Homo sapiens: one gene and its partners. The main gene of each other region encodes a partner of the protein of the gene in region 4 in a complex. Each region holds a gene or a part of one and is shown on either strand. Other genes may lie near its edges.

Evidence for each region.
Region 1: B9D1 (region 4) and TMEM67 share a complex: the UniProt entries of both Homo sapiens proteins name them as parts of the tectonic-like complex.
Region 2: B9D1 (region 4) and CEP290 share a complex: the UniProt entries of both Homo sapiens proteins name them as parts of the tectonic-like complex.
Region 3: B9D1 (region 4) and AHI1 share a complex: the UniProt entries of both Homo sapiens proteins name them as parts of the tectonic-like complex.

The regions. Positions count from the first base shown.
Region 1 is NC_000008.11:93,812,613-93,819,677, reverse strand, and holds the end of TMEM67 (meckelin isoform 1 precursor), read right to left. Parts: intron 4,374-7,065; coding exon 4,231-4,373; intron 3,307-4,230; coding exon 3,226-3,306; 3' UTR 1,557-3,225; downstream 1-1,556. UniProt on the Homo sapiens protein: Required for ciliary structure and function. Part of the tectonic-like complex which is required for tissue-specific ciliogenesis and may regulate ciliary membrane composition.
Region 2 is NC_000012.12:88,083,089-88,090,432, forward strand, and holds part of CEP290 (centrosomal protein of 290 kDa), read right to left. Parts: intron 6,400-7,344; coding exon 5,944-6,399; intron 4,857-5,943; coding exon 4,692-4,856; intron 3,411-4,691; coding exon 3,303-3,410; intron 3,086-3,302; coding exon 2,951-3,085; intron 1,765-2,950; coding exon 1,498-1,764; intron 867-1,497; coding exon 759-866; intron 143-758; coding exon 1-142. UniProt on the Homo sapiens protein: Involved in early and late steps in cilia formation. Its association with CCP110 is required for inhibition of primary cilia formation by CCP110.
Region 3 is NC_000006.12:135,486,572-135,495,908, reverse strand, and holds part of AHI1 (jouberin), read left to right. Parts: intron 1-10; 5' UTR 11-95; intron 96-199; exon of another isoform or gene 200-370; intron 371-3,617; 5' UTR 3,618-3,671; coding exon 3,672-3,681; intron 3,682-5,161; coding exon 5,162-5,286; intron 5,287-9,337. UniProt on the Homo sapiens protein: Involved in vesicle trafficking and required for ciliogenesis, formation of primary non-motile cilium, and recruitment of RAB8A to the basal body of primary cilium.
Region 4 is NC_000017.11:19,341,616-19,347,001, forward strand, and holds the end of B9D1 (B9 domain-containing protein 1), read right to left. Parts: exon of another isoform or gene 5,335-5,386; intron 2,960-5,334; exon of another isoform or gene 2,891-2,959; intron 2,243-2,890; coding exon 2,175-2,242; coding exon of another isoform or gene 1,847-2,174; coding exon 1,704-1,846; 3' UTR 1,560-1,703; downstream 1-1,559. UniProt on the Homo sapiens protein: Component of the tectonic-like complex, a complex localized at the transition zone of primary cilia and acting as a barrier that prevents diffusion of transmembrane proteins between the cilia and plasma membranes.

The DNA of each region.
Region 1 (7,065 bases), on a different chromosome or scaffold from region 4:
GTTTATCTTAAAATCTTAGATCAAATCCACTTCTCTGAGGTCAAAGCCCTGATGACCCAGAAGTACAGTTAAGAGCTTTCCTTATATCACACCCCGGTACTGCAGCACGTTTCATATTGCTGTAATTACTGGTTAATTTACCTCTTTCTCTTACAAATTATAAGACCCTTCTGAGGGGCTGGGGAGTGGGAAGAGGTAGAAACATTGTTGGAATGAATGAGCAAATGAAAAAAACCCTCCCTCCCAGAGACAATACTCCACTCTTCCTGTTCTCTCCACCCTCTATCACAAACTGTGTCTCCCACAGGGGTGTTGTCTTCTTTTATGTTTTACATCTATCGGTGACCTCTATCTGGGCCTCTTCCTGGCAGAGCTGGGGGTGGCTGAGGAAGAAGGCAGGCTCAGAATTTTCATTGGTCAGTTATTGAGATCAGTAATCTGAGTTTTAATATCATATTATTAATTTATTAGCAAGAAAAAAATATATTTTGGGGCAGATATTTTAAACTAAAAATAAAAATTCCAGCATTCATAGTTTACTCAATGTTAAAAGCACATTCTAAGAAACTAATCCTGGCCATGTGTAGTGGCTGACACCTGTAATCCCAGCACTTTTGGAGGCCGAGGTGGGTGAATCTCTCGATCAGGAGTTCAAGACTAGCCTGGGCAACATGGTGAACCCTTGTCTCTACAAAAAAAATACAAAAAATTAGCTGGGCATGGTGGTGCACACCTGTTGTTCCAGCTACTTGGGAGGCTGAGGTGGAGGACTGCTTGAGCCTAGGAGGCAGAGGTTAGAGTGGGCCAAAATCGTGCCACTGCATTCCAACCTGGGTGATAAGAGTGAGACCCCATCTCTCTCTCTCTGTCTCACACACACACACCCACGAAACTAATCCTTACAACAAGTGGTAAGCAAAGGATATTATTTTCATTGCAGAGATGTAGAATGAAGCTCAATGATGGCAAATGACTTAGTTCAAGATACCAAAGCTTATGAGTGATGGGCAAAATTCTAATTTGAATCCAGGGCTTCTTTTGCTAAATTTGGAGCACTTTCCATTAAGCCACACTCCTCACTGCTCCTTGACTTACAGTTATTTCCCCTCAGCTTATATTTGTCAATATTTACAAAAAAAACACATGCTTCATGCTTGTAAGTGCTGAGTTAATGATCATTTTGAATGTTCCTCAATGTAGGTCATCAGCAAAGCCTTCTGAAAAGGCAGTTAGGACAGCAATGCCAGAGAAGGAAGCATTTACAAATCTCCCATAACAGAGGCACTGGTCTACAGAAGTATTTTAGGGGCCTGTATGTTTCTAAGGAGCATCCAAAGTACACAACAGCTTATAAAGAACCTCTCTAGGTTTTGTTTCATTATGAAATGAAGAGAAATCAAATGTTTCTAGAAAATCAGTAAAATCAGGGATATAAGAGTCAAAGTATAGTGATTGGGTACTACAGAAATAGACAAAGGGTAATGAATCTAGTGAATAATTATGCACATGATCAGGAAATGTAAATTGTGACAATGTGAACAAAGGAGTCGACAGTGTATGAAAATCTGAACACATTTTTATGCACCTAGCCAAAATAAAAATATCATACAAAATTTAGAATGATTTTAAATGTTTTCTGTTTTAATTTATCAGCAAGTAAGCCAATTGATCCTTTATTGTGAAATTTAATACTTAAAAACTTTTGCACTAAAATTAACTTCTTCTATGTTGAATGATGGTTGAATTTCTTTCATATGCTTCTGAGTGAGTGGTTTTAAATATCCATGCCATATAAGTACATGTATTTATCTCTGCAGCTTTTATAAAGGCATTCCTGTACTGTGATCCTTCAGAAACTGCAGTTTCAAAGACTTCCTTTTCAGTCATCCTCAAGATTCAGGGAAATGTAAAAGATTCAACTTTGGCAATGGCTGGGACCTCTGCCCCAATAATGTTATATTCCTAAATGGTACTCCATCAGATATACATTAATGAAACAGAAAACAGAAATACCAAATGTTTTAGTATATATTTTCATCTGAGAAAATATAAATAATATTTATACAGTATTCCATTTTAAGTATTTACACAGCATTAACATAGAAAGCAGTGAGAAACATGATACATTTACAGTGTTTTGTTTTTGTTTTTTCTGAGACAGGGTCTTGCTCTGTCATCCTGGCTGGAGTGCAGTGGTGCTATCTGGCTCACTACAGCCTCCACCTCCTGGTTTCAAGCTATTCTCATGCCTCAGCCTCCCAAATAGCTGGGATTACAGGCCACCACATCCAACTAATTTTTGTATTTTTTGTAGAGATGGGGTTTTCCATGTTGGCCAGGCTGTTCTTGAACTCCTGACCTAAAGTGATCCACGTGCCTTGGCCTTCCAAAGTGCTGGGATTACAGGCGTAAGCCACAGCGCCCAGCCTTACTGTTTGTTATTTACAGTCTTTAAACGTAATTGAAAAGCAAAACTCTGGAAGAGAACTCTTAAAACATTAAGTAATTAAAATGTATAAAAAATGATATTGGGAAAAATGTCATACGTTATAACTTAATAAATGTAAACTATATTAGAAATGCAAATATATTTCATGGAAAGCGTATACTGACCTAATACAGGTATACAAAGGAATGAAAAGATATCATTTCATGAGATGCATATTAACCCAACAGTGAATTAATCCACTGCCAAAGAGGATGAGCAATTAGAATGATGCAAATTGAATCAGCAATAATACAATTTAAAATTTCTAAGTAAACTTGAAAATATCTTTCAACATTTATTTAACCATAAGCACACAAAACATGAAAATATCAAACTGAAAACTAGTCTTAAACTTGGAATCAAATTACTTTGTCAATGTGAGAAGATTCAGGCAGCTCTCAGTTTATAAAATAATCTACAGAGACAAATGATGGGGACTGTTTTAATTAGCATTAAAAAGTATTATGCTGAAAGCAACATTTAGATTTTTTTTGGCCTCACTGTCAGTATTAATTTATTATTTACTGCATTAAATACTACACACAATGGGAAAACAGTATTTTCTATTATATCAGGTTATATATTCCCAAGTTATAAAAATAAATCTTTCTGCAAATAAAAAACAAAAACAGAATAGTCTGCATTATAAGTTTTAAAAAATATGGCAAACTAACCTGATATCATGACTTTTTTTTGGCCATGATTATACTGAGTCTTTAAGTTATTTATTCAGGAAGTTAAATCAAAAATCTTTGATCCACCAATGTTTTGGATGCCAAATTCTTTTGTCCTACTGTATTACGGATATATCTAAAAATCTGGAAAATTAAAACAATTCAGAATGAAAAGAAATATAAACAGAATTAAATATGCACGTCGATTAAAATATCTAGATTAAATTAGCTAATTCTCTCAACTATTTTCATGTATCAGGTATCTGAATCCCATAGTGATACATAAAATTATTTCAAGATGATAATTTCTTTCATAGTTTCATAGTATGTTCCCATTTAGAGTAAATTCTTATGAATTAATAATACAAATTCTCTCATGTTCACAGAAATACACTTTAAAATATATAGAAAGGCAACTTTCTTCTAAGTCTAAAACTACGGAAACATCAAAAGAATCTACTCACTAGAGATAGAATTTCTTCACAATTCTAGATCACTGTCAAGGACTAATAAATTGCATCTTACTTATATATACTTCTTTGACATAGTGGAGAATATTTAGTTGATAATAACACCATTTCAAGAACAGATTTGCCAATTCTTGAAATCTCTATTTCAGGGTCCACACTCATACATGAAGTTGCTTTTTATCCACACAGGTGGGGGAGGTGTCAAAGCTGCAAGCTTTGGTGCTGAGCCCTGAGCTAGCTCTCCAGTGCTTGTTTTTTTGTTACTTAACGTCTGGAGAGGGTGGATGGGACTCTAATTACTGTTCACTTGTAGCATCTAGGAGACTAGCAGTTAAGTGTCTTCCTATAGGATTCCTCTTCCATGTATAATCAAGCAACTTATGCCCTCCACTAGACCCCAGTATTTCATTGACCCTAAAGGACAGAGTACAGTTGGTTGAAATGTTATTCCTTCTTTTGGTGGGGTTAGTCATATTCTAAACCTTTACAAAATTGTAGTAAAAGTAGACATTGTTACTCTCTGCTATGAAAATATCTACTTCTAACATATTTCTCTCAAGAAAATGAAGGAAAATGTAGAAAAATTTTAAAAGTTTACCTCTTGTTGTAGATATGTAAGGAAGGATGCTAAAATAAAATTTTGGCAAGCCAAATCCACAACACAGAAGAACAGCAGATCAAAAATAAGAAGAGTAGCTTCATTTCCATAATACAGGACACTGCTGAAAGAATAACCTTCATCTATTAAAAAAATTTAGAAAATATAAATTAGAAATTTAAAAAAGGAACAAGTCTGTGATAAACTTCTGGTGACAAAATCTGGATGTTTAAAAACAGCACATTAGAAACATACTGTATACAATACTTCATGGCTTACACAAAAATAAACAAACATTTTAAGATTTGTTCATCTAAAAGAGGTTAGTTAAAAACTCATAAAAACTTCTAAAAAGCAGTTTTAACATTAGGACCAATGGTTGGTAATTGCTAGTAGTGTAAGTTTCAAAGACCATTTAATAAATAGCCTTTCTCTATTTCTTTATACAACTAAAAGCTAAATTAGTCTTACAAACATTCCCTAAGATACAGTAAATCAGAGAAAAAACCAGCAAGGCATAGAGTAAGTACATAGTGTTCAAGAGTTCAAGAATTTATCTCAAATAGTCCCGCTGAGGTTTTGCTCTAAGACCTCTTCTCACTCCACCAGCGAGTTTCATCCTTATTGGGATGTGAACACCCTTTTAAAAAGATTATGATGAGGCCGGGCACAGTGGCTCATGCCTGTAATTCCAGCACTTTGGGAGGCTGAGGCAGGAGGACTGCTTGAGGCCAGGAGTTCAAGACCAGCCTAGGCAACATAGTCAGACTCCATCTCTACAAAAAAAAAAAAAAAGAAAGAAAGAAAAGCTAGGTCTGGTGGGTCTGCTGGTGCACACCTGTAGTCTTAGCTATTTGGGAAGCTGAGATGGGAGGACTGCATGAACCAAGGAGTTTGAGGTTATAGCGAGCTATTAATATGATTGCACCACTGCACTCTAGCCTGGGCAACAGAGCAAGAACCTGTCACTAAAAAAAAACAAAAAAAAGCCCGATGAAAGCTATAGATCTTTCCATTAGGAAAAAAAAAAAAAAAGTATACATAAACTTGGGAGGCCGAGGCGGGCAGATCACGAGGTCAGGCGATCAAGACTATCCTGGCTAACACGGTGAAACCCCGTCTCCACTAAAAATACAAAAAATTAGCCACGCATGGTGGCGGGCGCCTGTAGTCCCAGCTACTCAGGAGGCTGAGGCAGGAGAATAGCATGAACCTGGGAGGCGGAGCTTGCAGTGAGCCGAGATCGTGCCACTGCACTCCAGCCTGGGCAACAGAGCAATACTACGTCTCAAAAAAAAAAAAAAAAAAAAAAGTATACATATACAACTCTTGCAAACAATTAAACAATTTCAGGGAAATCCAGAGAACCACTGAAGCAGCCCATGGACACCCAGTTAGGAACATCTGCTTTATACAAGAGGGCATGTGGAGTGCTGGTAATGTTCTCTCTTGAAAGGGTACTAGTTACAGGGGTATATTCAGTTTGTGAAAATTCACTGATCTATAAGTTATATCCTTACAAAATATGCACATTACACTTGCATATATAATCTTAAAAAACCTGTTTTACATGCTCTCTCTTGGTGATTTTCTACTAACATTGCTCCAGCAATGACTTCATATGATAGCAACTCCTCAATTTATTGTGTGCTTCTACTTTCTCCTACAACCTGGTCCCTTATATTTAATGCCTACTGGATACCTCTTCCTAGATGTCCTGAAGTACCTCAAGATGCAACATACTGAAAACTAAATTCATCCTCTTTCCCTCAAAACCTGATCCTCCCTCTGTATTGCCTCTGTTATTGAAAAGCACCACCACCCACTTAGTCACACAGCCAGAAGTCTGGATAATTTTTGACTACTCTTTTCTCTTAACATTTCTGGCAATCCTTTCTTCTTCTCTAGCCCCACTGCTACTGCCTTAGCTCATAGTCTCATCATCTCTTGATGAAGACGAAGGTAGTGAGATCGGGCACAGTGGCTCACACCTGTAATCCCAGCACTTTGGGAGGCCGAGGTGGGCAGATCTCTTGAGGTCAGGAGTTCGAGGCCAGCCTGGCCAATATGGTGAAACTCCATCTCTACTAAAAATACAAAAATTAGCCAGGTGTGGTGGCAGGTGCCTGTAATCCCAGCTACTTGGGTAGCTGAGGCAGGAGAACTGCTTGAACCTGGGAGGCGGAGGTTGCAGTGAGCCGAGATTGTGCCACTGCACTCCAGCCTAGACAACAGAGCGAGACTCCATCTCCAAAAAAAAGCAGATAGAGAAATGGAAGAACATACTTAGAAAGAAGAGGAAGATAGGAGGAAGAGGAAGGAAGACTGCAGGAGAAGGAACAAAGGAGAAAGGAAGAAAAAAGCAGGAAGAAGGAAGAAAGAAGGTGATGATTGTATTATTAAAAATAATAGGGCCAGACACGGTGACTCATGCCTGTAATCCCAGCACTTTGGGAGGCTGAGGCGGGTGGATCACATGAGGTCAGGGGTTCAAGACCAGCCTGACCAACATGGTGAAACCCCGCCTCTACTAAAAATACAAAAATTACCCAGGTGTGGTGGCACACGCCTGTAATCCCAGCACCTGGGAGGCTGAGGCAGGAGAATCGCTTGAACCTGGGAGGCAGAGGTTGTAGTGAGCCAAGATTGCACCATTGTGCTCCAGCCTGGGCAACAAGAGTGAAACTCCATCTCAAACAAAAAAAATAATAACAATAATAACATTTCCTTTCTGAGTGCCTACCCATAACAGATACTTTACTGGGTTCTTTATATTAACACATAATAACCCCACAAAACTTTTAGAGGATTGTAACCAATTTTACAAAGAAGGCA
Region 2 (7,344 bases), on a different chromosome or scaffold from region 4:
CCAAATCTTGTGATACTTTCTTTAGTTTGACCAAGAGTGAGGAAAGAGAGTCATCTTGTTCTGCTACTGTCTGTTCCATCTCAGCCAGACGAATAAAATGCTTGTTGGTAGGAACTGGAGTGGGAGACTGTTTCATTAAATCCTATAAAATATGAATATATTAGCAATAGGCATGTATAATTCAATGCCATACTTATTCCATATTTTTAATTTGGTTCCTCAAATGATCAAAATATAATATCTAATCTAAAATGTAATGATTTAATAGGCAATGAAGGCTTAAAGAAGACAGGAAATGCAGACTTTATTATTTGTATTTACAATAGCTAGCAAAATGTCTGCACGTAGCAGGAGATCAATAAGTGTTGACCGAATTAACGAGGTAATGCTCAAATATGCTAAGGTTACACATTAAAAGATGAAAGACATGTCATTTCATACATATGGAACAGAATGGTCAAAAGAGGCAAATATGAGCTGAATTCTGGAAGTTAGATATAGCTAAACTCACAGTGAGTAGAATTTGAAAAGAAAGGCAGGTAGGTTCATAGCAGATTGAGTACATGGCTAAGAATTATAAATATAATTTTGTGAACAGCGGTGAGCTACAGGAGGAAGAATGATCAGAGCTATGTTTTCAGAAGATTATTTTGGCAACAAAAAGGGTAACTTCCATTCCAAAAAAGAAGAGAGCTGAATTTTAATTTACATGGTCACAAAAATCAATAAAGAATGGAACAAAGTTCTTAGAATCTTACCCAAGCCGTTTGTTTGAATTTATTTAGTGAACTATCAGCCTGTAGTTCTAATCTGTGATGAAGAATATGAAGGTCTTCCTCATGTTTCTTCACAATTTCTCTTTGCTCCTGTTTTACAGAAAATCGAAACTATATCTTAAATTGTGATTAAAACAAATTCACATTTTGAAGACCTTATATATTTTCTCTTCAATCTTCTAAAATTCCTTTGAGATGAGGAAGAAACAGTATCTCCATATATGTATGTATCTAGACTGGTATGCATGTCCCCTCAGACAATGTTCAAGTTGACAAGCCCAGCCTCAGTTCATAATTTATTCTTAACATTAGAATGACATGTATCTATCATCTTTTAACTTACTTCTAGAAAAAATTAAATGTTAGCTTTCCCCCACGAAGTTCTAACAAATCTGATTTCTACTGATTACCGGTGTGATATATTTCATTCCACCCTATTGCCTCAATCCTCACCTATAAACTCAATTAAAATATTTTTCAAAATCATATGATTTCACCATGATAGCTACTCGTGGTTTAGTCAGTGTATAATAGAAAGATACATGTACACAAACTTCCAGTTTTACTGACAGAGGTGTAATCCAATCACATGCAAGTAACAATTCTTAAATAGAATCATTTGAAAGCAAGAAAAGAAATACCACTTTAGGGTAAAATAATATTTAGCATTTGCTTAAAAAAACTAATGGATAACAGCATAACTCATAATATAATAAAATACCTCTCTGGCTTTTTCTAGAAGACGTTGATACTTCTTTAATACTTCTTCTTTTTGATTTAACCTTGCTTGCATGTTTGCAATGGTTTGATGAGCAATTTTCAATGTGTGGTGAGATTTTGGTTCCATCTCTTTTCTGCCTAGCTCAGCTATGAGCTTTTCTCTTTCTGCAGTGGCAGGCAATCGAAGCCTCAGTTCATTGATTACTTTGTCTCTTGACAGTATATTTTGTTCTGCTAACCTTAAAGCAGATTCTTTCTCTTTTAGTTTCTGCAATGATTAAATTATAATAAATCATTAAAGTATCTTTTTCCCTTTAAAATGCTTCATCTGAATTTTAGATTAGTTATTAGCCAAAAAAAATTCACTTTATTTTTCACATCATATGTACAATAGCCATTTGATACTTAATAAGGTTAAACTGACTAATTCTAATTGACAGCAGTTATTTGCATGCTTATTTATAAGACTATTACATATGCTAGAAACTTCATTGTTATGATGAACATAAAATTTAATTAAGGTACTTTATTGAGATATTACAGTTTAGAATTATACATGTATGGTGGTACTAGATTTAGGAAGAATATGTAATAAATTATTTCTTTTATTTTGGTCCATTGACTAGCAGAGCATTAGGAGACTAATCTATAAGTCAGTTAAGTACAAAACTGGAATTTTAGAGGCCCAACTCAATAAATTACGAATATAAAATCCGCAGCTTATTAAAACAAAGAGAAAAAAACAGAAAAATTTTTACTCTTCAAGAGGATTAAGGTGAGTATTTTAAATTAAGTAATTCAATGGCAATTCACATAAATGACAAATCTTAAAATTACTGAAGAAAATCTACGTTTCCTGAAATGATTAAAAATGTACAGTTTTACTTGAAAAACTTCTTTATGTATATTTTAAATGTATTTGCAGTTTATTTAGATGAAAACTAAAATGAAAACACATTCAGTTTACATTATTTTCTGAATAATTTAATGAAGATGACAGATTTGATCACCTACTAATCAAATTCAAGATCTAGGTTAAAACAGAAAGTAATTTCTAATTTACCTTCAACCCTTTAACCATGCATTAAAGGCAATGAACTGAAAATTGATTCATAGATTATGTAACATGCACTTCAAAATAAAACCAAAAAAGTAAGAATAAAGAGATCATATAAGAGAATATATTGCTCATAGAACTACAATTAAATGCTTTTTATTTCCTTTCATATTCAGTGTACCGAAAGGTACCAACTAATAATTAAATAGTGAATTCAAATTAACTATATCTGCTGTTCATTATTGGCTATTAGAAACATTATAGGAGAATAGAAAAATAGTGAAATTAGCAATAGATTCATCATTCTATGCATTGCCCTCATAAAGAAATATTATTTAGAAAGCCCCCCAAACATACCAAATAATACACTAATCAAAATGCAAATTCTTCTAATTACCTCTTCTAGTGATTTGCAAGTTGCCCGTGTTTCTAGAATTATTCGAATGTTCTCCTTAATTTTCCTTAGAGCGATCTCAAGTTGATTTGGAAGGGGCAAACTAGGGTCAGGGATTGATCCTGTAGCTTCTTCAAACTATTAAGAAATAGTATGTTTTTTAAAAAAGCAGTTGCAGCATTGAGAGTAACTATTAATTTTTACAGCTGTATGATAAAACATAGATTAAACCCCTCTTATATTTTAAATATACAATATAACATCAATTAAAATTACATCTGATACAGGAAATATTTCTGTGAGTTAACACTCTAGACTATGCTACAGAGTAACAAACAAGATTAATCATTCATACCTTTTGTGCCGCATTTAGTATTTCATTTTGCTGACGGTCAAAAATGTCTAGTTGGCGTTCCAGGTCAACTTCTCTTTGATCCCAGGCCATTTGTCTTTCTTCATGAAACTAAAAAAAGGACAATTTGTGTCAGACACATACACGAAGACATCAGGCACATAACAGGCATTTTATATATATTTTCTTATCTAATCCTCACAACACATTGAAGAAACTGTAATTATTTTCCTTTTATGGAAAAAAATACAAACTCAGAGAGGTGAAGTAACTTGTGTAAGATCACAAAGGCAGATGTGAAGTAAGGATTTCAGTCTATCCATCCATCCATCCATCCATCCATCCATCCGTTCAGCTATACGAAAGATATTTGATGACATATATTATGTGCCAAGCATCATTCTAGGAAATACAAACATGGCAGTAAACAAAACCAAGTCCGTGTCACCACGGAACTTGCATTCTGGCGAAGGAAAGACAGTCAATAATAAACCAGTAAGTATGTAATACGTCAGAAGGTTACAAGCACTTTGGAGAAAAATTAAGTTAATTAATCTCTATTTAGGAATCTGGATAGTAGGATTTACTGTTGTATATTAGGTGGCTGGTGAAGGATACACTGATAAGGTAAGACATTTGAGCTAAGACCTGCAGGCACTGACAGTGTAAATACCAAAGGTATCTAGGGTAAGAACAATTTAAGCAGGGGGAACAATCTCTGAGACAGTCATATGTTTGACGAATTTCATCTGTCTCTGAAGTATATACTTTATTCTATAAGAAGCTGACTTCTTACTCTATCAGTGAGAGCCAGTAGAAACGTGGAACTGTGAAAAGTCAAATAACCAATATCAAAATAAAAATTAACTTACCAAATGAGGTTGCTTATGTATTGCCGTTTTTAAGATTAAGACTACTGTTATAAAAGCTAAATAAATATGAATTTTTAGAATAGTTTAGAAAATAAAAAACAAATTATTATATAATCAATTAGTAATGGAAGGTGCACTTAATTAGAAGGATAACATAGTCATTTGTGCAATATTCTTGTTTAAAATCTTAGGGGCTCACGCCTGTAATCCCAGCACTTTGGGAGGCCGAGGCGGGCGGATCATGAGGTCAGGAGATCAAGACCATCCTGGCTAATATGGTGAAACCCCGTCTCTACTAAAAATACAAAAAATTAGCCAGGCACGGTGGCGGGTGCCTGTAGTCCCAGCTACTTGGGAGGCTGAGGCAGGAGAATGGCATGAACCCGGGAGGCAGAGCTTGCAGTGAGCCGAGATCACGCCACTGCACTCCAGTCTGGGCGACAGAGTGAGACTCCATCTCAAAAAAAAAAAAAAAAAAAAAAAACTTAGGGAAAAAAATGAAATAAATATAAAATAAAACCTTGTTCTGTTGCACAATTTCTTCTTCAAGACTGCTGATTGTACGTTCATATTCAGAAATTATGTTATTCAAATATTTTATTTCTTCTTTATCCTTGACTAATTCCCGATTTAGTTTAAGTTCTTGAAGACGAAGTTCTTCTATTTTCATATGCCAGTTGATTACCTAAGATTTACAATTTATATACACAAATATAAATGCTATATTAACAAATAACATTCCTCCATTGATGATAATGATTTTAATTGAAAGTAATGGCCATTCTAAAATAAAATAAGACACAATGTTATCTTTTGTCAAACTACATGACAAAATCTTATTTAGGATTTCCATAGACTTTTCTACAAATATGTGGGATTTTACAATAAAAATCTTCAAATTATGTTGGAATGGACATCACTAATATTCACTTTCATTTGTTATACGTTTATTGAACACTGACTATAAGCAGGTCATTGGAACTTTGGTATTACTTTCAAAAACAGAAATCCTAAATGTTTCTAGCCTAGAGAACAGGATGTAGTTGCAAGATAATTATTTTTCATTTAATTCTTTCTAAATGAAGATTAAACCATATTAAAAGTAAATGTGGGCCCACTACTTGTAGATCAAAGATAATTATGAACAGTAGAAATCAACTGATAACTACTACAATGTTTAAATATAATAATTAGTGTTTAATTAATATAAATTTTCCTATAGTAATTAAAATTCTTTGCTATTATACAATCTGAACATTCCCACTAAAATCTTTGGTTAGAAAAGCCTAATTTTATTTTTACGTATAATAGACATTCAAATAGCCAACACTGCTAAGTTATAAAATCTAAATTAATGAATCATAATTGGAATTTGTATCTTAAGCATTTTTCATATAGGCATATATTAAGAAATTATCATGTAACTCTTTTGAAGATAATGAATTTAAAATTGGCTGGGCACAGTGGCTCATGCCTGTAATCTCAGCACTTTTGAGAGACCAAAGCAGGAGGATTACTTGAAGCCAGGAGTTCAAGGCCAGCCTGGGTGACAAAGTGAGACCTTGTCTCTACAAAAAAATTTAAAAATTTTAAAAAATTAGGTAGGTATGGTGGTGTGCACCTGTACTGCCAGCTACAACTACTCAGGAGGCTGAGGCTAGAGAGTCCCTTGAGCCCAGGAGTTCCAGCTATGTTTGCACCACTGAACTCCAGCCTGGGAAACAGATCAAGATACTGTCTCTTAAAAAAAAAAATCAAGTTTAAATGTTTACCTTTTGGGCTCCTTTGGTATCCTTTAAAGTGCTTATTAACTCTTCCAGGCCCTTTAATTTTAATTCCATCTCCAATGTTTTGTTCTCCATATTTCTATGTTCTTGTTGAGAATTTTTCATTTCTTGCATTATCTTAAGTTTGTCATTTTGTAGTTGAATCATTGTTTTGGAGAACTTTTCCTGTTGTGCCAAGGGTAAAGCTCCACTAAACTGTCGTCGTAGAGACTGAATTGTTTGGCGCAGATGTTTTGCTCTGTTTCTTCCCTCCAAACGAGCATAATAGAGAGCCTGTTCTTTTTCATCAAGTTTCTGCTCTAAGCGCAAGTTGTAGGCCTCCATCTTCTGCAGTTTAGATGTAATTGACTCCAACTTACCAAGAGCAGTAGCCTCACTCAGTTGAAGAGAGACATTATGTTGGTGCAACTTGGCAATGAGCGACTTTTCATCAGACTGTGCCTGATATTAAAAAAAATATATATTTGTAGTAAGTTTCAAATTTTTCCAGTGAAAGTTATCACAGATTTAAAATTCACAATTTACTAAGCAAAGTTTTAACACAGTGGCACATGAGATCTACAAAAATGTAACTTTGCTTTAATACAAATAATTACCAAAGAACTGTAAAAGAAAAAACCTAGAATCAAACAAACTTAAAATCCAAATGTAACTGAATAACAGTGGGTATGTTACTGGTGTTTTTTTTTTTTTTTTTTGAGACAGAGTTTCACTCTGTCACCCAAGCTGGAGTGCAATGGCGTGATTTTGGCTCACTGCAACCTCCACCTCCCGGGTTCAAGCAATTCTCCTGCCTCAGCCTCCTGGGTAGCTGGGATTACAGGCACATGCCACCACGCCTGGCTAACTTTTGTATTTTTAGTAGGGACGGGGTTTCACCATATTGGTCAGGCTGGTCTCGAACTCCTGACCTCGTGATCCGCCTGCCTCGGCCTCCCAGAGTGCTGGGATTACAGGCGTGAGCCACCATGCCTGACTGTTACAGTTTTTTTTTAACCTCCATTGCAAGTAACATAATACTGATCAGGACAATGTGTATGTTTTTATAATTCCCAACATATATAACGTAAGAATATGTAAAAAGTTACATATAAATACAAGAGAAAATATTGTTATTAAAGATTTACTAACTACAATTCTCAGTGTCCTAATTTTGATCAGCAGCATAATTCATCTATAGGCATTTAAATGCTGTACTGGATTACTGAACAATATTTCAAATTAAAGAGCTTTCTAATCAGGTTCCAACTAACAAGAATAACAGCCTCTGGTTGGTATATCTTTTGATTAAAAATGTAACAATGGCCCAGCATGGTGGCTCATACCTGTAATCCCAGCATTCTGGGAAGTCAAGGTGGGCAGATCATTTTAACCCAGGAGTTTGGG
Region 3 (9,337 bases), on a different chromosome or scaffold from region 4:
CTCCTTACAGTACTAAAATAGGTGCCATTTTAAATTCCCAGACAAGGAAAAACCAAGGATTAGAAATTAAGTAGCTTGCCCAAGGCCACACATCAGTAAGTGGTGACACTAGAGCTCAAGCCTGAGTCTTTTTTACTCGCTTTGCTTTTGCTTCTCTTCACTTCGCTTCTCTCTTCTTCTCCTCTCTTTTCTTTCATAGTGGCAGATACATAACTATAAGAGAGCATTGGCTTGGTCCTCCAAAGCTAGCAGTTTGGTGGGAGTTACAGAACATTTTACCAGGGTGAAAATTCAAGGTTGAGGTAGAGGGAGCTACAAAGATTAAGGCACCCTGGAAGCACAGAAGAGAAGTTCTTAAATGCCCTTCAAGGTGAGAATGCTCTCTAGAGAAGATATCATTTGCCTTTAAAGGATAGTGAGGAGTTTGTTAGAGAGACAAAGGAGGAAGCACATTTTTCAGGGGAGGGGATATGTGTGTAATGATACAAAAGCAAGAGAGAACTTGGCACACGTGAAGGCCTGCAGGTAGTTTCACATGTCTGGAACACAGTGGATGTGTGAAGGGGACATTTCATAAATGGCCTTGGACCTCACTGGTAAGGACTTGATATTTTTTTCAATGTGCGATTGGGAGCTAGTGAAGAATTTTAAGCGAAGAAACGACACCATCACATTTGAATTTTAGAAAATTACACTAGTTGCTGTGTAGATGATGATTTTTTTTTTAAGGGAAAGGTGATAGCGGCGTGGAAACAATCTTAAAACAAAAAGCATAATCCTTCCACAGTGTTTTTGTCCCTCAGAGTTACTGTCTCATGTCACTGCCTTTGGGGGTGATGGGAAGACAGTTGGAAGAATTCTGTAAAGAATTGTCTACATGTCCCTTCTACAGGTGTCACCTTCCATTCATTCCTTAGCCCCAGCCTGCTAAGTTTCTGCCCCTCTATAAACAGCTTTGACACACGTGACTTCCTACTTGCAGATTCAGTGGACTTTCTTCAAAACCTCCAGCCCCTTTTGATGCCACACAGTATATAGGCAACATCTCCTTTAAAACTTGGGTTTGCTTCTGTAATGCTTCTATCTCCCAGTTTTTCACCTATCTCCCTGATTTTACTTTATATTGTAGGCTCACAGGATTCTCATTGGCTTTTTATTTTCTTGGAACTATCATATTTATAAATAACTCCCAAATCTTCAGCCTATTGTCTCCCTGCTGGATTAGTAGATTGCCTAACAAACATAATATGATTATATACGTAAACACACACACACGTGACAGTAATAACAGTTGTTGTTTTTGAAGGGCTTGCCATGTGCTAGGCATTGTGCCTAGTATTTTATTTGCATATTCTCATTTAATCTTTATAAAAACACTGTGAGTGATTTACTCTTATTATTGTGAAAGATTAGGAAGTTGATATCCATAGAGGTGAATCTGCTGGCAGATAGAACTGGTATTTGGATCCAAGGATCTGAAAATGGAGCTGATGCTTGTAGCTGCTCAGTGCCCTTCAGATACCCAACTCAACATGACCCATACTAAGCTCAGTGACTGCACCCTAACAACCTGTTACAGTTATAGCTAACATTTATTGTTGCTTCTTCTGTCTACGGTACTGTTCTAAATCATTTAACCCTTACAACAACCCTTTGAGTCGGCACTGGTAGGGTGTTTTTATAGATGAGGAAACAAAAGTCACGCAAGTGACTATGGAAACTAATTCTAGGACATGGATTTTAAACTACTGCCCTGTACTGCATTATATTACAGTGTAATGATACTACTAATCTACTTATTCTAGTTCTAGAAACATGGGAATTATCTCCGATTCTTTCTCCTGCCTCTTCATTAGTTATTTAATCTTTCTAAAATATTACCTCACTCCATCACCTGGAGCGCACTGGTGCAGTCTTGGCTCCCTGCAACCTCCACATTTCAGGTTCAAGCGATTTTCCTGCCTCAGCCTCCCCAGTAGCTGGGATTACAGGCACCCACCACCACGCCTGACTAAGTTTTGTATTTTTGGTAGAGATGGGGTTTTACCATGTTGGCCAGACAGGACACAAACTCCTGACCTCAAGTGATCCACCCGCCTTATCCTTCCCAAGTATTGGGATTACAGACATGAGCCACGGCGCCCAGCAGGCTTTTTTTTGATGAATCATAGTCATAATATAGGTCAGCTTTTTCCTGGCCTATTAGATGACCATCGAGTAGTATAAATATTAAATTTTTATTTGTTTTATGATTTTTCTACTTCCGTGCTCTCAGGTTTCAATTACTCATGCTGTCATTGCACTTGCCTTTGCAGCTTCTCTTTTCTAATTTAATATAGACTAGAAAGTAGAAGACTAGATTTATTAAATTTATAACTGCTAGAAGGAGTAAATACAGGCTCCTATCACTAAAGTATAGGAATTTTTACTCCATGGATTTAGTGATGTCTGTTTTGACTGGGTGCCACGTAGTTGTTGCCTAAGTTAACTGACATAGTTAGGTATGTTTACATAATCATTCCTTTCTTTTTAGAATTTCTTAGACATTTCTGCAAGAGGAACATGAATGTGGATGTCCAGGGAATTGGAGCATTAACCAATAATGCCTTGGGCCCAGTGTGGTGGCTCACGCCTGTAATCCCAACACTTTGGGAGGCTGAGTCGGGCAGATCATATGAGGTCAGGAGTTCAAGACCAGCCTGGCCAACATGATGAAACCCTGTCTCTACTAAAAATACAAAAATTAGCTGGGTGTGGTGGCGCACACCTGTAATCCCAGCCACTCGGGAGGCTGAGGCAGGAGAATCGCTTGAACCTGGGAGGCGGAGGTTGCAGTGAGCCGAGATCACACCACTGCACTCGACAAAGGGAGACTCCATCTCAAAAACAAACAAATCAATAATTCCTGAACCAGCTTTTTTTTTAACACTCTTCAGTTTTAGTCTCAAAAACATGCATATTACATTCTAAATGTTCTAATGTGAGAATATGTTCATTTTAGACATACACCGATTTTTTTAATAAAATGGGCAATTTAGTAATATACATACTGAGTTGAACCATGGTTTTGAGTAGTTCTGACACAGTAATACACATCCAGGTTTTATTAAAGAAAGATGGTGCAAATATTTGTACTATCCTTCTCTATTGTAGCAGAATTTTCAGTGGCAGACACAGAGGTATTTAAATTCACTGTGAGTGTGCTACCCACAAGCATGCTTTAATGTAATATTGAATGCTCTTAGGAAAGTCAATCCTGAGATGGAGTTTGGTTTCTTAAAAGTGCGTTGAAATGTTCATTAATGTATTAAAACACTTTAAAAAGTTTATTAACATACCACATTAGATGTGCACTGCCTTCAAAATGTTTTTTTTGTTTCAAATATATAAATACTTTATTCAGATATGATCTAGTTTGTTTCCCTTGATTTTAGAGCCCTAAACTGATTCAAATGTACCCAAGTCATTTGCATAAGATTGGGTTAAGGGAACATAGCTTTATTGGTATAAACTTAATGAAGTAGTGGACATACAATGGCATGATCTTGTGTGAAGAACGTTTTATAATTTTTATTTGGAAGTTCCATATTACAAATACATCTCCTTTGTTTCGATAGGATCCTGATTGAGTCAATGCTTTGCATTCTCAGTCCTCTGCATAAAGCTGAGAGATGCCTACAGGTAAGACTTCTATGAAATTTATGTATAAAATTTATATTTTATACATTTACTTTTAAGTTTGGTTTATTTTAAGGGATTCTTGAACAGATTAATGAATACAGTAGATGTCATTGACCAAATATACTACATTTAGAGATACTTATTGGTTTTGTATTCAGTTTTCTATTTAATATTGTGATTAAGGTTAGTATGTATTTAATGGATGGTAGTTTGGGACTCAGATGGACAAGGTAAATAATGATTACAACATAGGGTTAGTTTTTATTCTTTATCATCAAAATTGAATGTTTTACTCCACCACAAGCATTGGCAATCTTTTCTAAAAGGGCTAGCTAGTAAATATTTTAGGCTTAGTCTCTGCTATAACTGCTCAACTCTGTCTCTCTGTCTCTTTTAAAGCATGAAAGCAGTTATAACAATTCTTAATCAAATGGGTATGTCTGATTTCAATAAATCTTTACAAAAACAAGTGACTAGCCTGCAGGCCATAGTTTGCCGACACTTGCTCTAGAGCACCCATTCATTCAGCATTTATTAATTTAAAACATAATGACTATGTACACTATGTCAGACCTCATAATAGTAGCTGGGGATGTAGTTATGGGGGAAACAGAAAATATGTTTCTTTATATAGATATAAAAATAATTATATAATTTCCATTTGGGTTGAGTGCTGTGAAGGAAGAGAACAACCTGCTATGTGAGAAAAGGGAAAATTAGATGAGTTTGTCAGGAGGTGTTTTATTTACAGGCAGCATTTAAACAGACAGGTTAACACCAGCCAGGTGAGGAATTAGAGGAAGCTTGCCTCAGAAACAGCTTCATGTGGGAAGGAGCTTGCTGTGACGGAGGAGCTAAAGGAAGGGTATTATAGCTAGAACATAGGCATCTAAGGGGATATTTGTCTTGATTTGAAGCCCTGGAGATAGATCAGGAGGTATGGAGCCCTGTAGGGCATATAAAAGACTTATTTTATCCTAAATGTATTGGGAAATTTTCAGGGGCTTAAGCATTATCTTCTTCATGTTTTAAAGGAAAAACCTGTTAATATTTGTGGAATACTGATTACAGGCTAGGCACACCTTAGCCATTTTTCATGCAAAATGATCTTTGGCATAAGATAATTGTGATTTTACAGATAAGGAAAATGAAGTTTAGAGATCTTGAGTAACTTGTCTAAAGCCACATAACACGTAACTAACAGTGGTAGATGCTACTGTTTATCAGAAATAAAAAGTTAACTTAGCAAAGGAGACTTTTAGAGTGAGTGGCCAAAAAGGTCAGAGGGATACAGGTGAATGTTGTGTCACTAAAGTCAAAATAAAAAATATTTTAAGAAGGAAAGATAGGTGAGTTTTTCTAATGTAGCTAGAGAACTCATGCCGATATTTACAAGAACTTATTTCTTAACATCCTAGTAGTGTAGGTTGTGTGTTATGATAGAGTCATTTACAAAATCACATGGCTGTATCTTTTGTAGCTGAGAGTGAAGCAAAAGTAAAAACCAAAGTTCGCTTTGAAGAATTGCTTAAGACCCACAGTGATCTAATGCGTGAAAAGAAAAAACTGAAGAAAAAACTTGTCAGGTCTGAAGAAAACATCTCAGTAAGTAAATGATCATTGGGTAATAGTGATTTACATATGCGCATAAAATGCAGATATGGCTGCATTTTATGTTAAAATTCTAAGGAATTTTGAAAATTAAAAACAGTAACACTATGTCATGGTCAATAACATGTGGTAAAAATAAAGTTTATATTAGAATCAACATCACTGTGAGAATATTGACTTCATTCTTGAGTGCTGTCCTACAGGAAGAACACACACACAGTGGGGAAAATGACCAGAGATAGTGGGGAAACTCAAAACTAGCCATGATAACATTTTTGAAGAAAATATTTTTAACCCAGAATTGTGAAGAACTTAGGAAGTAGTATCTTAACTTCAGATATTGAATAGCTTGTGCTTATTTAAACTATTTCTGTGTGATTCTACCCAACAGAACCAGGAGAAATCAATGGCCGTATGGTAATAATTATCCTTTTATGTTTGAGGCACACTTTCAAATGATAGAATCTTTGGCAGCACACTTGAAGGAATTAAAAATACAGTGCTCAAAGACTAAGCAAATCAGCAACTAACTACAACCTGATCCCCTTGGAATCATAAAGAGTCTGTATTGGCATCCACAGTTAATGCTCTATGCCCTCTTTATACCTATCTCCCTACTTGAGTTGCACTTTTTACTACTTTGACCATTATCTCTTCTGTCCTCACAGAAAAAAATAAACAGGCTCTTGTGTAAATGGTACATAGTTTTTTTTTTTTTTTTGGCAGGAGTTTTATAATGAGTTATAATCCTACATTTTGCTTGTAGTAAGATTTACCCCATTTTTTCTTAAGACCTGTTCATTTTAGTATTCTGTCTGGCAGATGTCAATGTAACAATATAAATTCTGAAGTGAGGCAAAAACAAGTAGTAAAATTGACCAAAATCCAGCTGCACATATGTGAGGGTTCATAGTGTATACACTGGTGTACGACTGCACAAAAATTTCGAACTACTGACAGAATGGACAGATTAGCACTCCCATAGTGATTGCTGCTCTGAAATAGCATGTGCTTTTTCTGGTGGTACTAGTGCACAATATGGTAGGGAATAGTGACATGGAGGATGAAACATTGCTTATTGATATATGCGCTCCCCTCAGATGGAGTGGTTTATGTTGGGCAAAAGCAAAAAGAACCCTGGAAACAGTTGTCTGCAGAGATGTTTTATGCTCAGAGAAGAACCTCATATTGTCTCTTAGTATTAAAGAACTGGGAGTTGTGAGCCATGAACAAAATGCAATTTAGACCAAGGTTTAAATTAAATGGATAATCAGAATAGGCAGAGGCTATGTCCATTTACCTAAGGTCCAGTTTAAATGTTGAGGGGCACATAAGTGTGAGGTGACTAAGCATAATTTATCCAGCCTCTCTTTGCAAACACCAGGACTGAATAGGCTTCTTTTCTTTCAGAAATAAGTACACTAGGAACAAATATTTGGGAAGATATTTCGCAGCTCAAAAGAACAGGAATATTTCTAAAGGACTTAGAGGAGAACAAAATATTTTTGACATGATTAACTTGAGGAAGTAAAAGAGGAATAGCTGCTTTCATTTGCTAGATGCCTTAATGCTTTCTATCTTTAGGCACTCTTCTAAACACTTTATATATATTTAGTCGTTTAATACAAACGACGAAATTACAGGGTTTTATTTCTGTACAGGAGAAAACTACATCAGAAGTTAAGTAACTTGCTGAAAGTTACATAGTAAATGGTAGAACCAGGATTCAAACACTGAGTGGAAGTGCAGAATCCACTGCCTTAACCACAACCCAATATTATCTATTTTAATGAAATTTGAAAAGATAGGACTTCTTCTTGAAAGAAGAACAGGGAGTCCTATGTACAGAACAGGCTGAGATGAGAAATGGAGCAGTCTGAAATAAAATTAAGCGAGGAAAAAAGTCAAAATAGGGATTCATAATAATGGCAGGTTCATCTTATATTCCAGTTATATATAAGGCACAATAATAAGAGTTTTACAAATATTATTTCTAAATCTCATGTTAATCATGCAAGATAGATATTGGGATTCTTTTTTTGCACATGAGAAATTTTATAAACAGACAAACAGACATGTTAGGTGATTTCCTTAGGTCATTTAGTCTAAAATAGGATAAGTGGGATTTAAGACCACAGTCTCTGCAATTTTAAAGTTCATGTTCTTCAGTTGCTTCCTTAAAACTATATCTCAGGCCTAAAATGATGGAATTGACACTACGGAAAAATCTAATCAGTGAAGTGGGAGACAAATTCGAGGTGGGAAGAAATGACCAAAACTAAAATGAAAGAAATAAATGATGAGGACATAGAAAGATATTTGACCCACAAATAAGTATCCCGGGACAGTACTAGTGGAGCAGAAACAATAATGAGCATGATGAAGAAACCTTGCTGAGATTTCTGAAGAGATGAGTCATCCTGCATTCCAGGCAAAATTTATGAGATGAGAACTATATCTAGAAAATTCTTTTGTTTGTATCTTAAGAGTCAAATATTGCAGACACCTAAACACAAAAACATATAGTACATTTGAGACTTCTCTGTAAAAACACTAAATCCAAAAGACAATGGAGAAATATTTAGAGCACTAAGAGAAAAATTGTAGCCTGAGGAATCTGGTCACCTAAGTTGTCAGTCATTTGTGATGGTAGTTGTAAACATATGTGCATTATTAGAGAAATATCAGTGTTCCCTCCCTGGAAAAAAAAAAAGATTTAAGATTTATTAAAGATGTAGTACCATTTCTAGATATGAATCAAAGTTAAGAATTTAAGAATAGAACATCTTAAGATCTTAGAGGAAGGGATGAAGAGAAGTTGGTTAAGGAGTACAAAAATATAGTTAGAAGGAATAAGTTCTAGTAGTCAGTATTACAGTAGGGAAATTACAGTTAATAATTTATTGTATATTTCAAAATAGCCAGAAGAGAAGATTTATGTTCCCAACATAAAAGATAAATGCTTGGAGTAATGGGTATCTCAGATGCTCTGATTTGATTATTATACACTGTATATGGTGTCAGAATATCACATGTACCCCCAAAATATGTACAACTATTATGTATCAGTTAAAAATTTTTTTGATGGGAAATTTATGATCCAAAAATACCATTGGATGAACTTTGAAATCAGTTAAATATGTAGAACTTTCTTAATTATTATATATGTCCAGAATAATTCCTGAAGATTTTACATTAGATATATGTATATGATAATGTGAGAGAACAGAACCAAATTGTTTTCAAAGATTGAGCAAAGCATCCTAGCTTAGGAAGAAAAAGTCACGTAACCATTACTCTTGTCCCTAGCGTATAGTTAAAAGTTATTATTTCATCCTAGAGTTTGAAATAAATAAAACAAGTATATATATAAAATAGATTATTACACTTTCTAAGTTGTCAGAGTTAAAAAAATTAAGTGAGTTTTTTTAAAAGAATGTAATGAAATAAGAAATTTAAGTAAGAGCAAACTGAGTCATGACAATAAATGTAAATAGTTTAAGCTTCCTATTTTAAAAAGTGGGTTCAAAAATAGACTTTTAAAATATCAGGACCAGGCATGGTAGCTCATGCCTGTAATCCCAAGACTCTGGAAATCCAAGGTGGGAGAATTGCTTGAGTGCAGGAGTTCAAGACTAGCCTGGGCAACATAATAAGATCCTGTCTCTCAAAAAATAAAAACTTACCTGGGCATGGTGGCATGCGCCTGTAGTCCTAGCTACTTGGGAGGCTGAGGTGGGAGGATTGCTTGAGCCTGGGAAGTCGAGGCTGCAGTGAGCCATAATCATGCCACTGCATTCCAACCGGAGTGATAGAGGGAGATCCTATCTCAAAAATAATACTAATAATAAATAAAATAAAATATCAGGTATTTTACTTGCAAGATTCACACATTAAACAAAATGACATAAAGTTTAAAAGTAAAAGTGTGCAAAAATATAGACAGTTGTCTATGTTTTTCTTCCTGAAAAGAAACTTATAGCTGTCTCATTTATGAATGTGTGTTGAGAACAAAAAACTCTATATAAATATATGAACACATTGA
Region 4 (5,386 bases):
GAGACAAAGGCTGTTAAGTTTCCTCAGAGAATGCATGAGGGAGTTGTCTAGGGAAACACAGACCTGGGCCATGGATGGAACGCGAGCCGTTGTGGCTCTGGGGGCTCAGGCAGGTGCAGGGCAGGCGAAGGAACAGCTGGCTGTCACCAGGGTGGAGACCTTGCCAGGTGAGCATAAACGAAGGATGGAGGGCACTATGGGAAGTGCATGCAGATGACCAAGAGTTCTAAACTGGGCTGGGAGGAAAGCAAGGAAAGAGGGGCTGATGGTTGGCGAAAAGGGGCTGGGCCAGGAGCTTGGAGGGCCTGGTGGTTTGAAGAGCACAGGGAAGCGCCACATGAGGGAGGGCCTGGCCTGAGGGAGGGATGCCTCAATCCAGACTTTGGAGGCAGTGCCTTCACCAGTAACAAGAGATATGCCTGCCTGGCTGTGAGGGGTAGAGGTGAAGACAGACTGTTCCAAGTGAGGAGGTTGAGGAAGAGGCAAGGACACACCCCTGCTCTAGGCTCACCGCACATGGGGAGTGGGAGGAAAAAGATTCCACTTAAGAGGGCTGCAGGGTACTGAGTGGGCTTCAGTAAGGCCAGAAGGCAGAGGGAACTTCCTATTCCGAGAAGATGGAATCACAGGAATTTTGCTGACAACAGACGATGAGTTTCAGAACGCACAGTGAGTTGGGGGGAGGGCACGGGAGTGCTCGTGAGATAAAAGGCAGAAGAGGGTCGGCCCAGATGGTCTCAGGGCAAGTGCCATGACGACAGTCCAGGGCAACATGGGCGAGGCTGGGAGGTGGGGGTTTGCCAGGAGCCTGTGGTTTCTCTTGGATCCCGCTGAGGGCAGTATCTAGGCTGGGGCACCATGTCTGCCGAAAGCTCAGTGGCAGGGCAGAGAGGGCCTGGGGCTGCCTCGTGAGGTGCGAGGGGTTCTTGTGAAGGTGGGGAGGCCCAGGGTCAGGGCCTCCCAAAGTAATGCTGAAGGGGCTCTGCTTCCAGAAGGGCCTGGACAACCTCAGAGGTCAGGGTGTTGAGCCAGGGGGCTCACCTTCCTCTCCTGCCAAGGGGCTGCCAGAAAGCTGGACCCCAGCCAGCGGCCTCCCACCTCTGAGAGGTTTCCAGCCCCCATCCTTGGACTGTGGGTAGGGGGGCAGAGAGGGGAGTGGGCAGGCTGAGGGTCTGCCATCCCCCGGGGTACCTCACCATTCCAGCTCCCAATAACAGGGTTCTGTCCTTGCCAAGGGAGGCTGGTGGCCAGAAGCATGGCTGAACGGGTGATTCTACTTAACCCCAAGCCTCTAAGGAGGGTGCCATGCCCAGTTAGTTCAAGGAACAATGTGTTGCGGTATAGAAAAGGCCACACAGCTTTGAGTGGCAGAACCTGGTTATGTCAAAGCTCCCATCCCACATGCCATCCTGCTGCACGGTCTGGTCTCCTGGCAGCTTCCACGGCACAAGGGGTAGGGACAGGGAGAGCCCTGGAGGTGGGGCCAGGAAAGGCCCAAGAGCCCCCAGCTCCTGTGGGGGAGGGGCTAAACAGGAGAGAAGGCAGCCCCAGGCCTAGGCTCTCTGAAAATGAGACTTTATTATACAAAACTATTCTGTGTGCCCCCAGCTCTGGCCACCAGGCTGCCCCTCAGGCCGATGGGCAGCGGCTGACTTCGGGAAGGCAGCCCTTCATTATCAGAGACTGTGCAGCCTGTGGAGCCTTCACTGGGGGAAGCTCTGGGGTGGGCTGGGCCCCAACACACCCTGTGTATCAGAAGGCCCAGTGTCATAGCCCAGTTTCCTCATGTCCTTGGTCACCACGTTGAAGAGGAGGGTGACAAAGCCCTGAGAACGGACACGGGTCACTGGGGACAGAAGGGCAGCATCAGCCAGGCTGGGCTGGGGCAGAGAGAGACCCAGGTTGATCTGGGAATCTCAGCCTCAGCGTTCTCATCTGTAAAATGGGGACAACAGTGCCTGACCCAAGCCCCTCACTGGGAGGTAAAGGGGCTGCCGGGACAGGCAGACATGACAAACCCTCTGTGCTCCAACCAGGCCCTCATCTGGGAACATTTGTGGGCTAGCTCCTATGTGCCTGGCAGGTCCCCGGCATTCACCCCAACCCTGGGCCCACCCACTCCCAGGCTGTAACCTGTATGGGGGATGGGGGTAAGAGAGGGGAGGGAGCTTTACCTTCCCGGCCTTCACCCTGAGCCACCACCTTGGGGTCTGTGTACTCGGGCCGCCGCCCCATGAACCAGCTGGGAACACAGAAGAACACAGGTGAGCAGGGCCCCACCTGGGCATTCCTGGTCTTGGACGACACTGGATGTGGGCTCTCCTCGGTTCAGAAACCAGCACTCTTGTTCCAACCGCACCCCACCCCCACCAGGAGTCAGGCCCTAAGCAGAGCCTTCCCAGTGGCTGGGCTCCAGCGTGGGGTGTCCCTTGCCGAGGTCACACAGCCTAGCCAGGCCTCATGTGCTCTGCAGCCACGCTGCCTCCGCTGGCCGGTTAGGCTTTTCCATCTCTGGCTTCCATGGGTTTGGTTCACTGGGAATGAGAGCTCAGGAAGATTCTGGGGTGGGGGTGCTACCTGAACCCCCAGAAATCCCAGAAAAGTGACAGCAGCTGAGGTGGGGGAGGGGAGGGGACAGTGTGACCCTCCAGCCTCCCTGGAAGGGGGTCCCACCCCAGAGAGTCTGTGGGGTGGGCAGAAGGGCCAGAACGGCTCCTCAGCCTTACCTCCCACTAGTGTGGGGTCCAGGACATGTCACTTCCCATCTTGGCACCCACCGCAGGCCCTGCCAGGGGCGGCACACAGCCACCAGGCTGAGCATGCGCCCTCCCCAGCCCCAGACCCCAGTTGGGCCAGGCGGGAGGCCAGGAGGCCGGGGGTGTCAGGCCCCGCCGCCGACACACCCACGCGAGCCGGAAACAACCAGGAGCACTATTCCCGGCCGGGTGGGTCCAGCAGCCGCGGGCTTCGCCCCGCCGGGACTCGCGGCCGCGCCTCCTCTGTACCACAGCTCCCAAGGTCCCCCCACGGACACACCCGGCCCCGAGGGTCGCTGGCAACCATGCCGACCCAAAAGCCCACGCACCGCCCTCCCCGCGGCCTCTCCGTCTCTGAGGTGGGCACCAGCGCTCACCTGGGGCGGCTGCAGAGGGGCCCAGGCCAGGGAGGGGCTCTCAGCTGCCGCAGAGTTGGCCTGTGGAGACCACAGCCAGGGAGCACTGCCCACCAGCCCCCAACCCCAAGGAGGGAGCCAGAGAGTGAAAGCCAGCAGGCGCTCCCCAAGGGGAAGGGATGGGCAGCCACAACCCCTGCGCCTCAGTTTCTCCTTTGGGAGAGCAAGACTCTCACAGCACCCACCTCACAAGAGGCTATGTATGAGGACTGGGGCCTGGGAGCATCCCCACTGTGCCCAGCAGATCCCATCCCGGAGCTCACATGGAGCTCCCGTTCCCACTGAATTTCTTTCCTGGGGTCCACCCGGGTGGTCTGCTTAGCTGGCTGGGGTTGGGGAGACAAGACAGGCTGTTCTGGGAGAGCATTCCAGGCAAGGACCTGAGGCAAGGAAGGACCCCTCAGACTGCAGGAACTGAGGTAGATGGGAAGCAAGTGGGCAGAGGCCATGAGGTAGGCAGGGCCCGACCACCGGCCTGGCAGCATTCTGGTTGAAGTTCATTCTGACAGAGACAGGTTCTAGCAGGGGAGGGGTGCAGCCCCAGTTGTGTTTTAGGAACACCGTTTTTCTTGCTATGTGAAGACTAGACTGGAGGGGTGGCAGCAGGCTGAATGACGGCCCCTCAAAGATAGCAGATCCTAGTCCTGGGAAACCGTGCACGTGACCTTATTGAGAAACAGGGTCACGTGCACTTTGCACAGATATGATTAGGCTAAGGATCTTGAGGCGACTATCCAGGTGGACCCTAAAGGCCAGGACTCGAGTGATGAGGCCACAAGCCAAGGAAGGCTGGGGCCACCAGAAACTGAAAGGGCAATAAACAGAGTCTCCCCTAGAGCCTTGGGAGGGAGCACAGCCCTGTGGTGCCTTTTCTGGGCCCAGTGACCTGGATTTTGAACTCTGGCCTTCAGCATACATTTCTGCTGTTTTCAGCTATCACATTTGTGTGTTTTGTTGCAGCAGCCACCGTGGGAAACGAATACAGTGGCCAAGAGTGTTTGGGGCAGGCCCTAGGCCAGCGCTGGAGGATGTGGGGAGAGGCTGGGAGAGGGGTGGGGATGACCGAGGTGTCAGCCTGAGCAAGGAGCCTCCATATCTGGGAAGATTCTGCCAATCAAACTGCCTTCACTAATCAGAACTTTCTCCAGTTTTTGTAATCCAAGCACATACTGCCTTGCCCAGTTGCGAGCCCCTCCACAGGGGCTGTGAAACCCTTTCCTCAGCGAGCTGTCCCCTGGAGGCCCAAAGTCCTCCTTGGAGCTGTGGGCGGTGGAACAGGGTGAATAACCCAGCCTGGATGGCTGTGTGGGTCCCCAGTCTCTTAGGCTTTCCCAACCCACTGATGGGCACTGCCTCGCTGCCTCCCTGACAGCCTGTGGCATGGGGATTGTCACCTCCAGGTGATACTGGCCCAGGTCATCTGGGAAAGAAGTCCTTTGCTACAGGGTGGCCTCCCAGAAGGACTCCTAGGGGCAGTAGGCACACAAATTCTCAGGCTGAGGCCAGCGGAGACCCTGCCCTTCCTCCCCTCCACGGCTCTCAGAGCTCAGTGAAGCATTCTCGGCCCTGGGCGCGATGCTGTCCCTCCACCCAGCAGGGCTCTGGCCTGGTCTCACGCCCAGTACTGGCCAGGCTCGCAGGGGCTGCTTGCCGGCTGCTGCCCTGGAACCCAGGGAGTCCTCCATGTTCCACTTGTGCCTCACTAATCTGCCGGTGGGCGGCAGAGGCTTGCTGCCCAACTGCGCTAATGGTCCTCGAGTCAGAAGGCCAGGGCCCAGCTGGCCCTCTAAGCTCCCACTTGGATGTGAGCAGGGGTAAGAGGCCTTCATGCTGGGGCTGCATCCAGGCATCCCCTGGGCCCTCCCTGCAGGCCCTTGTGTCCTGGCCCCTGCCTGCCTCCCTGATGTCTCCCTCATTCTGCCTGGCTTACCACTTACTGGCCACACTGCCGTCCTGGCCACACCACCGTCCTGGCTTCTCTAGCATGCTAAGCTCACGCTCTCCTCAGCCTGGCAGGCACTGTTCCCTGTGCCTGATGTTCTTCCCCGGCTCTTCCCTCCACACTAAGCCTCTGCGCAAATGTCAGCTCCGGCCAGAGACTCCCACATGTAAAGGCATTTATCATGATTACTGTTCCAAGGTGTCTGACTCATACTGCTATATCCTCTTGTTTCCCACCTTTTAATGTCACATTATGTCATGAGCATTTTTCCC